Linked DNA regions of Homo sapiens: region 1 is linked to region 2. Evidence: fine-mapped expression QTL. A gene starts in region 2. The other region holds a variant in brackets. All regions are shown on one strand. Distances are between the middles of the regions. Region 1 overlaps BCO2 (beta-carotene oxygenase 2). Region 2 holds the start of BCO2 (beta-carotene oxygenase 2).

The links. PIP is the estimated chance that this variant, and not a neighbour inherited with it, causes the effect.
Region 1: its variant is fine-mapped to the expression of BCO2 in left ventricle (GTEx, PIP 0.92).

What each region holds. Positions count from the first base shown.
Region 1 is chr11:112,208,408-112,213,797 of GRCh38, forward strand. BCO2 (beta-carotene oxygenase 2) reads left to right here. Exons shown (of 12, transcript NM_031938.7): 9 at 5,317-5,390. It also overlaps the pseudogene MRPS36P4. Among named protein-coding and RNA genes, the nearest start is that of PTS, 15 kb to the right of the region's middle. The variant A/C (reference allele first, on the strand shown) is at 2,078.
Region 2 is chr11:112,172,775-112,178,164 of GRCh38, forward strand. BCO2 (beta-carotene oxygenase 2) reads left to right here and starts at 2,738. Exons shown (of 12, transcript NM_031938.7): 1 at 2,738-2,915. The coding sequence starts at 2,828. RefSeq lists a silencer at 5,099-5,265.

The DNA.
Region 1 (5,390 bases), 36 kb after region 2:
GCTGTATATTGGCTTTTTTTTTTTTGTCTTATTTCACTGGATCTTCAGTACAGTGTTGAATATAAGTGATGATAATGGCATCCTTAACTTGTTCCCAATCTGAGAGGCAAAGCTTGCAGCATTTTACCATGAAGCATGCTGTGGCTGTAGATTAAAAAAATATAATAGAAACTGTCCCTTCTCGGGGGTCATGATGGGCAGCAAGATGCATCTGCTAGCAGTGTCGTTCAGGTAGTCAAGCCACATGCTCCATTAATAAGCTTCCCTGCTGGAAGAGACAATCCTAAACCCAATGTACCAGAAGCTCTGAGATCAGCAGGGCAACCATCTCACGATTCTGCAATTTCCCAGCATTCTAAGGGAAGTAAATTACTGGATTTGTGGATGTACCAGACACTGCAGAAGTAATGAAAACATTACCTCAGAAATATAGAAGTAAACTTGTGTCTCAAGAAGAAATTGAATTTGTCCATTGTGGAGATCCAGAATAATCACTGTGGCTGCTGTTTGTCATCAGACAAAAGAATTACCTTTACAATAAAGGACTTCCAAAAAAAAATAGACTGTTTTTTAGAGCAATTTTACTTTTAAAGAAAAATCAAGCAGAAAGTATGGAGAGTTTCCATATTTCCCTCTCCTGCTAATGGTACATTTGTTACAACTGATGAATCAATGTAGGAGTGTTACATTATTACTAACTAAAGTCCATACTTTACATGATGGTTAGGTCTGTGTTGTACAGTTCTACCGGTTTTGAAAAATGCATAATGTCATGTATCTACCAATATCATACAGAATAGTTCACTGCCCTGAAAATCTCCCTGTGCTCCCCCATTCGTCCCTTCCCCTTTCCTCCTCTCAGCCCCTGGAAACCACTGATCTTTTCACTATTTCTGTAGTTTTGACTTTTCCAGAATGTCACATAGTTGGAATCATACAGTATGTAGACTTTTCAGACTGACTTTTTTCACTTAGCAATATGCATTTAAGGTTCCTCTGTGTCTTTTGTGGCTTGAGAACTCATTTCTTTTTATCGCTGAAATGTGTATTCATTCATTTATTGAAGGACATCTTGGTTGGTTCCAATTCTTGGCAATTATGAATAAAGCTGTTATAAATATTTGTTAGCACGTTTTGTGTGGACAACTTTTTAAAAAGATACATTTTATTAGATTAGGAGAGTTCCCTTTTACTCCTAGTTTACTGAGATTTTTTGTCATGAATGGATGTTGGACTTTATCAACTGTTTTTTTTCTGCACTATTGAGATAATCATATAACGTTTATCCTTTATTCTGTGAACATGGTGAAGTACATTGACTGATTCTTTAAAAAATGTTCATAACAGCCATTGATTGATTTTTGAATGTTAAGCTACCCTTCCATTCCTGAAGTAAATCCCAATTGGTCGCATTTTATTTGCTTTTAAATATATTGCAGGATTTGCTTTGTTACTATTTTGTTTAGAATTCTTTGTATCTATGTTCATGAATAAAATTGCCCTTTAATTTTTTTCTTTTCTATAATGTTCTTACTAGGTTTTGGTTTTGTGGTTTTTCTAGTCTCATACAATGAGTTGGGAATTGTTCTCTGTTTTCCTTCTTTCTGGATGATATTGTATAGGATTGATATTATTTCTTAAATATTTGGAATAATTCAACAGTAAAGCCTTCCAGACTTGAAAATTTCCTTATAGGCAGATCTACAGTTCTAGAATATTGATTTGGTTCTCTTTTCCAATTTATAGTTCTCTACCACAATTCTCAGTTTAAAATAATTTCCTTAAACATATTTAGAATAGTTAAAGTCTGATAACTAGTATCTGGATCTTCTGTGATTCTGTTTCTGTTATCTGTTGTTTATTTTGGTTTTTAATCATGTTGCCTTGTCTTTTCATGTGCTGGTTATTTCCTTTCATTTGCAGAATATTGTGTTTTAAAAATTGTGGAAATATTTTGAGACACAAGATGATGTTATTTTCCTCTAGAGAAGAATTTCACTTGCTTATATAATTTGAAGCAGGATTCAGTCCATGCAAGAGCTGGACTATTTCTTGTTTATTCTTATTCATAGGGTAC[A/C]GACCTATGAGGTCCCAACCCAAAGGACTAGAGGTTTACTAGGCCTTCCTCTTCTTGGAAAATCGTAAATTCAAACTTTTGTCACTCTAGCCCTCAAAACTATTGAAAAGCCCTTCTCTTTAAGGTTAAGGGGTAAGTGAGTTGCTATGGCTATACCCTTATCAAAAAGTAGCGTGAAGGATCCTTGTGGTGATGGATCTGTTCTGTATCTTGAGTGGCGTGGTGGGTACATGAATTTACACATGATAAAATAGCATAGAACTAAATACACGCACACACACACACACACACACACACACGAATGCATGTTAAACTAGAATAAGGTTGGTGGATTGTATCAATGTAAATTTCCCAGTTGTGATATTATATTATAATTATGCAAGACATTCCTACTGGCAAAAAAGGATGACGAATATATGGGAAATCTCTGTATTATTTCTTTTTTTATGGTGTAGAAAGTATATATATATAACATTAAATTTACCATTTTAACCATTTTAGGTGTTCAATTCAGTGGCATTAAGTAAATTCACAATGTTGTGCAACATCACCACTATCCATTTCCAGAACATTTTCATCATCTCAAACAGAAACTCTGTACCCATTAAACAATAATTCCCTGTTCCCCCCACCTCCAGTCCCTGGTAACCTCTATTCTACTTTCTGTTTCTATGAATTTGCCTATTTTAGGTACTTCATGTAAGTGGGGTCATACAATACTTGTCCTTTTGTGTCTGGCTTATTTCACTTAGCATAATGTTTTCAAAGTTCATCTATGTTGTAGCATGTATCAGAATTGCATTCCCTTTTAAGGTTAAATAATATTCGATTGTATACACACACACACACACACACACACACACACACAATATTTGTTTATTCATCTGTTGATGGATACTTGGGTTGTTTCCATCTTTGGAGTATTATGAATAATGCTGCTATGAACATTGGCATACAAATATCCAAATTCCTTTTTTTAGTTCTTTTAGGTATATATCTAGAAGTGGAATTGCTAGATCATGTAATTCTGTGTTTAACTTTTTGAGGAACAACCAAACTATTTTTCTACGGTGGCCACAGCATTTTTCTACCATCAGCAATGCACAAGAGTTCCAGTTCTTCACGTTTTTACCAACATTTGTTATTTTCTGGGTTTTAAAAAAATAATAACCATCCTAATGGGTGTGAAGTGATATCTCATTGTGGTTTTGATTTGCATTTTCCTAATGACTAATGATGTTGAGCATATGTTTAAGTAGTTAGGGAAAAACTTGCCCCAGTATCCAGTTGGTTTCTGTGGGTTTCCTTTTCATCCCAAACCTGGCCCCTTTGTTCTTCACTGTCTTTTTAGCTCACCAGTGCCTTCAGGCAGCTGTTTTAAACATTTTGTCCATAATTTCTAGTTGTTTTCAATGGGGTAGTTGATCCATATAATGTAATCTACCATTATTTGAAGCGTCTTTTGGGTTAGCTATGGTTTTGCAAGAGAAAACAATTGTAAATATAATTAAAAGTCATTTTTAAAAAGTTGGTAACTTCTGAAGCCATGGTGACCTTTTATAAAAAAAAAAGCTAATAACTTTATGAATCTTAAGAATAGCACTAAATCTTTACTCACTAAAAATATTTCTGCATGCTACAGAGATCATATAGACTAGGTATATGGGAGGAAATGGTGCAGTTTGTTCTCCATCCTACAGTATTTCAGAGAGGAAAATGGGCTTAAAGCACTTACTGTCAGGAAAAACACACTTACTTTATTTGGGTCTCCTGCTTAAACATCATCTCTATGGAGAAGCTGTGTTGGGAGTTCCCAGGATCACCCCTAGGTTTGATAATTCATTAGGAGGATTCATAAGACTCAAAATAGGTCAGGCGAGGTAGCTCACGCCTGTAATTCCAGCACTTTGGGAGCCCAAGGCAGGAGGACTGCTTGAGCCCAGGAGTTCGAGACAAGCCTGGGCAACATAGTGAGATACCATCTTTATTAAAAATTTTTAAAAAGACTCTATATAGTCATACTCATGACTCATGATTACAGTAAAAGGATACAAAGCAAAATAAGCAAAAGGAAAAGGCACATGAGATGAAGTCTAGAGGAAACCAGGTACATGCTTCCAAGAGTCCTTTCCCAGTAGAGTCACAATGGACATGCTTAATTCCTCCAGGAACTAGTGACAACATGTGTAAAATGTTGTCTGCCAAAGAAACCCACCCAAGCCTGCTTGTCCAGGGTTTTTATTGGGGATGAATCATATAAGCATAAAACCCCTACATGATGACCCTCAGTTACTGATGTTCCAGATCCTCAAGGGAATGGAGGTGTTCATTATAAATCACATTGTTAGCATAAACTATCTGGACAAACTACTGCAGAGTCACTTAAGGACTGGCACATGCAAGAACACTCTTATCAGACAGAACATCCCAAGAGCTCAGTTCCCAGCAACCAGCCCAAGGTCAGTCATGAAAACAAGTCTTTCTTGAAATAGTGCAGGGTTTGAGCAACCCAGGCTTACTAAGTTGATCCTTTTCCACACAGAGGTCTACCTGATCAAATCTGAAGAAGGAAAGCACCCTTTGTTACTCTCTAGTTTCTTACTCTTTGTTATATAATCATTTGTTTATTTGATGCTAATTAAATAACTTTTTTTTTTTTTTTTTTTTTTTTTTTTTGTGACGGAGTTTCACTCTTGTTGCCCAGGCTGGAGTGCAATGGCATGATCTCGGCTCACCGCAACTTCCACCTTCCAGGTTCAAGTGATTCTCCTGCCCCAGCCTCCCGAGTAGCTGGGATTAGAGGCATGAGCCACCATGCCCGGCTAATTTTGTATTTTTAGTAAAGACAGGGTTTCTCCATGTTGGTCAGGCTGGTCTTGAACTCTAGACCTCAGGTGATCCGCCTGCCTTGGCCTCCCAAAGTGCTGGGATTACAGGAATGAGCCACCGCACCTGGCCACAAATATTTTATAATTTTTAAATTTCTTTATTATCATTCCTCCACTAGAATATAAATTATATGAGGCCAAAGACTTTGCTTTATTCATGACTGTATCTCCAGTGTCTAAAACTGCTTGGGCTATAGTAGGTACTCAACAAATATTAAGTAGATGAATGAATGGAAATTATCATTTATTTAAATATTTAGGAATGCCAATGATGTTGACTGGATCTAAATTATTGGGACATACTGTTACCATATGAATGACAATTTTCATCTCTTTCTTCTTCCCAAACAGGTCCATAATTCAGCAGCCAAATCTTTCCCTCGAAGGTTTGTTTTGCCTTTAAATGTCAGTTTGAATGCCCCTGA
Region 2 (5,390 bases):
CTAGCTAAAAAAATTATCCCTTTAATGTGAAGTACTGCTATGATTTTACTGAAAACTTTCTATGTTATATATTACTATATGGGATAGCTATATTAACCAGATTTTTAAACAAAATAGCACCCATTTTTCAATCATATAGGCAGTTCAGTTTATTACATGTATATTTTTCCAATATAAGCAGTCAGAAAATTGCAAATAGTACTACAGGGAATTGTTATTCCTAAGGGAGACTGCACATTTGCCTTGCTGCCTTCTAAACTCTAAAATAAAATCTCATTTTATCACATTACTATTTTAAGGCATAAACACCACATGATGTAAATACTCATATAAGAAAAGATGACAAAAGTGAAATAAAATAATACTTGCTAAAGAAAATTGGTTAAGTGGAAAAAATTATTGGGTTGATAGAGGTGGTGGCACAGAATAGGTTGGAGGTCAACAAAGTAATTATTAGAAATGAATTTTTTTCTTTTTTGCCACTTGCAGTGGCTCCCATTTCTAATCCTAGCTACTTGAGAGACTGAAGTGGGAGGATGGCTTGAGCCCAGGAATCCGAAGCTGCCGTGAGCTATGATTGCATCACTGCACTCTAGCCTGGGTGACAGAGTGACACTCTCTCTAAAAAAAGAAGGAAAGGAAATTTTTTCAATTTTTTCTTTCTTTCCTTTGCTTTTTTTTTTTGAGACAGAATCTTGCTCTGTTACCTAGGCTGAAGTGCAGTGGTGCGATCTTGGCTCACTACAACCTTTGCCTCTTGGGTTCAAGTGATTCTCCTGCCTCGGCCTCCTGAGTAGCTGGGATTACAGGCGCCTGCCACCACACCCGGCTAATTTTTGTATTTTTAGTAGAGACGGGGTTTTGCCATGTTGGCCAGGCTGGTCTCGAACTCCTGACCTCAGGTGACCCACCCACCTCAGCCTCCCAAAATGCTGAGATTACAGGCATGAGCCACTCGCCCGGCCAAAAGGAAATTTTTTAAAACTAAATACAACAAGAAGATTTGTGAGTTAATACGACATGTCATCTGGATTTCGACCTACCATCATTAAGAAATGTTCTTTTTCTAAGCATTTATTACTAATATGAAAAATAAGGCCAACAGATTGTTTGAGACTAGATTTCATAATATACTTGTTATATCCTGATGGTATCACCATTGTTTAACATCTAGTTCTTCCCTTTGCAGGTTCAGTAAATTGATTTGATCATTTCATTTGATATGATTAAGACTGGAGAACTGATTTTAAGTCACAATGTGTTTACTGTTCAGCACTGTTCAGAATTGTTATACCTTGTAGTATAAAGGTGCCTGAAAGCCTAATCATGAAGGCTTATTTATTTATTTTTTTATTGATCATTCTTGGGTGTCGAAGGCTTATTTTTTAAATCAAATTTGGATGGCTTTGGTACCATCCACGTAGACAAGAGTAATTATCTTGGCCAGGCATGGTGGCTCACACCTGTAATCCCAGCAGTTTGAAAGGCTGAGGCAGGCAGATCACTTGAGGTCAAGAGTTCGAGACCAGCCTGGCCAACGTGGCAAAACCCTGTCTCTAATAAAAATTAAAAAAAGTAGCTGGGTATGGTGGCGTACACCTGTAGTCCCAGCTACTCAGGAGGCTGAGATAGGAGAATCACTTGAACCCGGGACACAGAGGTTGCAGTGAACCGAGATTGTGCCACTCTACTCCAGCCTGGGTGACAGAGTGAGACTCTGTCTCAGAAAATAATAATAATTATTATTATCTCACAACTGGAGAAATGCTATTGCAGGAATACTATTGCCCTTTAATTTACACTTCTAATGTTACTCTTTACTATTTCAATAAAATATCACAAATTTATAAGTTATTTTTCATTGATTACTAATCAAAATATATACCGAACTATCTTCGTACTCTGCTATATGTATTAAGACACTCCCTTCTGACAATTTTAACCACTTCTTTCTTGAAATACAATTTTGCTAGGAAAACATGATATGTTAATGTTAAAAGCAACTCTGTGGCAGTGCTGTGGGAGTTACTAGAAGACCTTTTGGTAAGGGAGTCAGAGAGGTAGATTTTAAATTGGATTTTTGAAAAGGAAAGGGGATATTTCAGGCAGGGGAAAAGTTTCTTCAGTGGCACAGAAGAACAAACGTATCATGGTATGTTAGTCACTTTGCTGGGATGATAATTCATGAAGGGGAATAGTGTATGGTCTAAACTGGAGAGCAGGGACAATCTTGTTTCTTGGTATTCTTACTTTGTAGCACAGTATTTGCTACATTGGTGCTAAAAATGTTAATAAAGTCATATACATTTTAAGGGCATACTTTCACTCATGCTAGATTGTCAGAAAATGTTCTGTAAAATTAATGAATAGAAAAGAAAAGGAAGGATGAAGTGATTTAAAGGCAGAGAAAAAGGATGAAAGGTAAATTGTTGCCAGATTGTAGCGTCCTCTAGTGGCAGTCTAAATTCGGACTTTATTCTGTGTCGGAATCTTCCAGAAGAGGAGTGGCATAAAAAAATTGATGCTGTGCATCAGGATAAACGGACTTAACTGTAGTGTGAGAACAGGTTTGAAAAAGAAAAGTTTAGGGCGGGGGAGACCACTATTGGTGGTCTAATTTTAATATTTCAAACAGCTGCGTATTATAGCTAGGGTGTTTGGACGGTTGTCATGGAAATAAGCCCCGCCCCTTAAGCTGCGTCCTCTCTTTGACCTGTCAGTGAGGGAGGGACAGTCCAGGCAGTTCTGTGCGTGTTCACTGTTTAGTAGTACTCAAAACTGCCAGTGTGAGAGGATTTGGAAATCACTGGATCTGCTCAATACAAAAATGTTTTTTCGAGTCTTTCTCCATTTTATCAGGAGTCATTCTGCCACTGCAGTGGATTTCCTTCCTGTGATGGTGCACCGGCTCCCAGGTAGAGGGTTTGCCCCTTTCTCTTCCTCATCCTCCTCTTCTTGCCAGTCTGCGCTTAGAATTCTGTGCCTCTTTCCTGAAGGTTGCTGGGAGCTTCTGAAGCTTTGTGTCCTGTGTGGCTCAGATGAGATAGCAATTCCGCAGAGTCCTGGAAGTTAAAGAAGGCTGAGTTAGGATTGTTTCCTCATGGTCAGGGAAACAGCCTTCACATTTGTATATTTTATGCAATATTTAAGGCAGGATTCAGGGACTTGGTATTCTTTGGGATTTGCAATAAGAAGAATATTCAATATTTAGGCTTTTCTAAATTGAAAAATCACTGCCACACGTTCTAATGTAATTGTTTGGTTTCTCTATTTGCATTTTGCGGGGACTGCCTTAAAACTCATTTATGTTTTATAGCCTTCTATTATAGTTACCATTGTTACATGATTTTATGTATAGAAATTGGCTGATCTAGAGCTTTCAGAAATCATACTAATATGCACTATAAATTTTAAAATTACTTAATGTAGTAATTTAATGTTTGCAGTATGCAAGGGAATGTATTACGTACTGGAAGGAGAGAGGAGACAAACACCAGACCCTGTACTCAAGGAGTACTGGTAGTATCATTTATCATACAAGACAGATAAGATAAGGTCCATATGAGAGCTATAAACAGATGCTGTGAGTTCAGACTAAGGAGAATCAGTTCTTGCTGTAGGTAAGGGGAATGCTGTGTTTATAAAGCAAATGACATGGCAACTGGATCTTGAAGGATGAGTTAGGTGAGTAAATTTCATCTGAAGGAGTTGGGAAATATCCTAGATGAAGAAAATTGATTGGCGGGGGGGGGGGAATTAAACATTCTATTTTGACATGTTGAAAGTCACCTGCAAGAAGTAATTGATGAAATTAAGAGACTAGATGAGATTGCCAAGGGAGAGTGCTGAGATTAAAGATCCAAGGTAGGACCTTAGGAACATTCATGAAGTGGTAAGGGGGATAAGGAGCCCATAAAGGGAATTAACATTTGGAAAGCATCCACTATCTTTATATTTGATTATGACAACAGACATAAACAGGAAGTATTAACCTCCTTTTATTTCCATTTTATCATGGAAAAACCTGAGGCTCAGAGACATTAAGTAACTTGCCCAAGGTTGTCAGCTAATAAGTAATAAAACTAGCAGAATGCAGAGAGTAGTTATAGGGCAGCAGGAAAGTTAGAATAGGACAATGTCTCAGAAGCTACGAATAGAAAGGAGTTTAAGAAAGTGTTAATGTCAAATTCTATGGAAACTTTGAAGAGCATGTAGCAGATTACCAGTAGCATGCAATAGAGTATACAACATATAGACATGTAAATATTTTCTACAATGTAAAATGCTTTAAATTTGTGTATCTCTACTTAGACAAATGCCCAATCAGGCCATTCAATTTACTTAAAAAAGTAAGATGAGTAAAATTACATACCTGACCTTAGGGAATTTATTTTAATCTGAGAATAAGATAAATGGTGCATAATGTTAATAAAAGTAGAGTAACATAAATACCTGAGAGTTTCCTTCTCTATCTTTTCAAAGCATCCTCTTTGTACTTCTGATACTGTAGTTCCCAGATTTTAGTATGCTTAAGAATACCTGCTTGTCCTTCCCCAGAGATTCTGATTTATTAGGACCAGAATGGAGTCCAGGAAACTGCATTTTAGCAGTAACACCAGGTATTTCTGTTGCAAGTAGTCCTCATACCAGACTCTGAGAAACAATGCTGAAATAAAACACAGTGTCAGTGATCTGTTTACTAGGCAGTCAGTTCTTTTATTTCAGGATTCTAATGCTTTTTATTCTCAGCAGTACCAAGTACTTCGTCAACTGAATAAAATAAAGGAGATATTACACCTTATTGGACTGATCATTAAAAGCTATGTAAATATAATAATAGCATTTTTTGAGTATTCTGTTCTAAAAGCTTTACATAAACTAACTCATTTATTACTTATAGCCTTAGAAGTAATATGAATTATCATCATCACCATCTTAGAAAAGAGGAAACAGACCACAGAGAGGTGATAAGTGCCTTTCTCAAGCCTTCTTATTTAGGAGAGGGCATATTTGAAACCAACCAGTCTGGAGCCAGGTAGAGCCCCAGCTCACACCCTTAAATATTACACTGTGCTGCCTCTTAAGGGAAGTACTGTAACACTGGAGATAGACCTTGACCAATTAATGGAATTTGCTTTTTTTTTTTTTTTTGAGACGAAGTTTCGCTCTTGTTGCCCAGGCTGGAGTGCAGTGCTGCGATCTCGGCTCACTGCAACCTTTGTCTCCTGGGTTCAATGCGATTCTCCTGCCTCAGCTCCTGAGTAGCTGGGATTACAGGGGTCGGCCAACACACCCGGCTATTTTTTTTTTTTGTATTTTTAGTAAAGATGGGCTTTCATTATGTTGGCCAGACAGGTCTCGAACTCCTGACCTCAGGTGATCCACCTGCC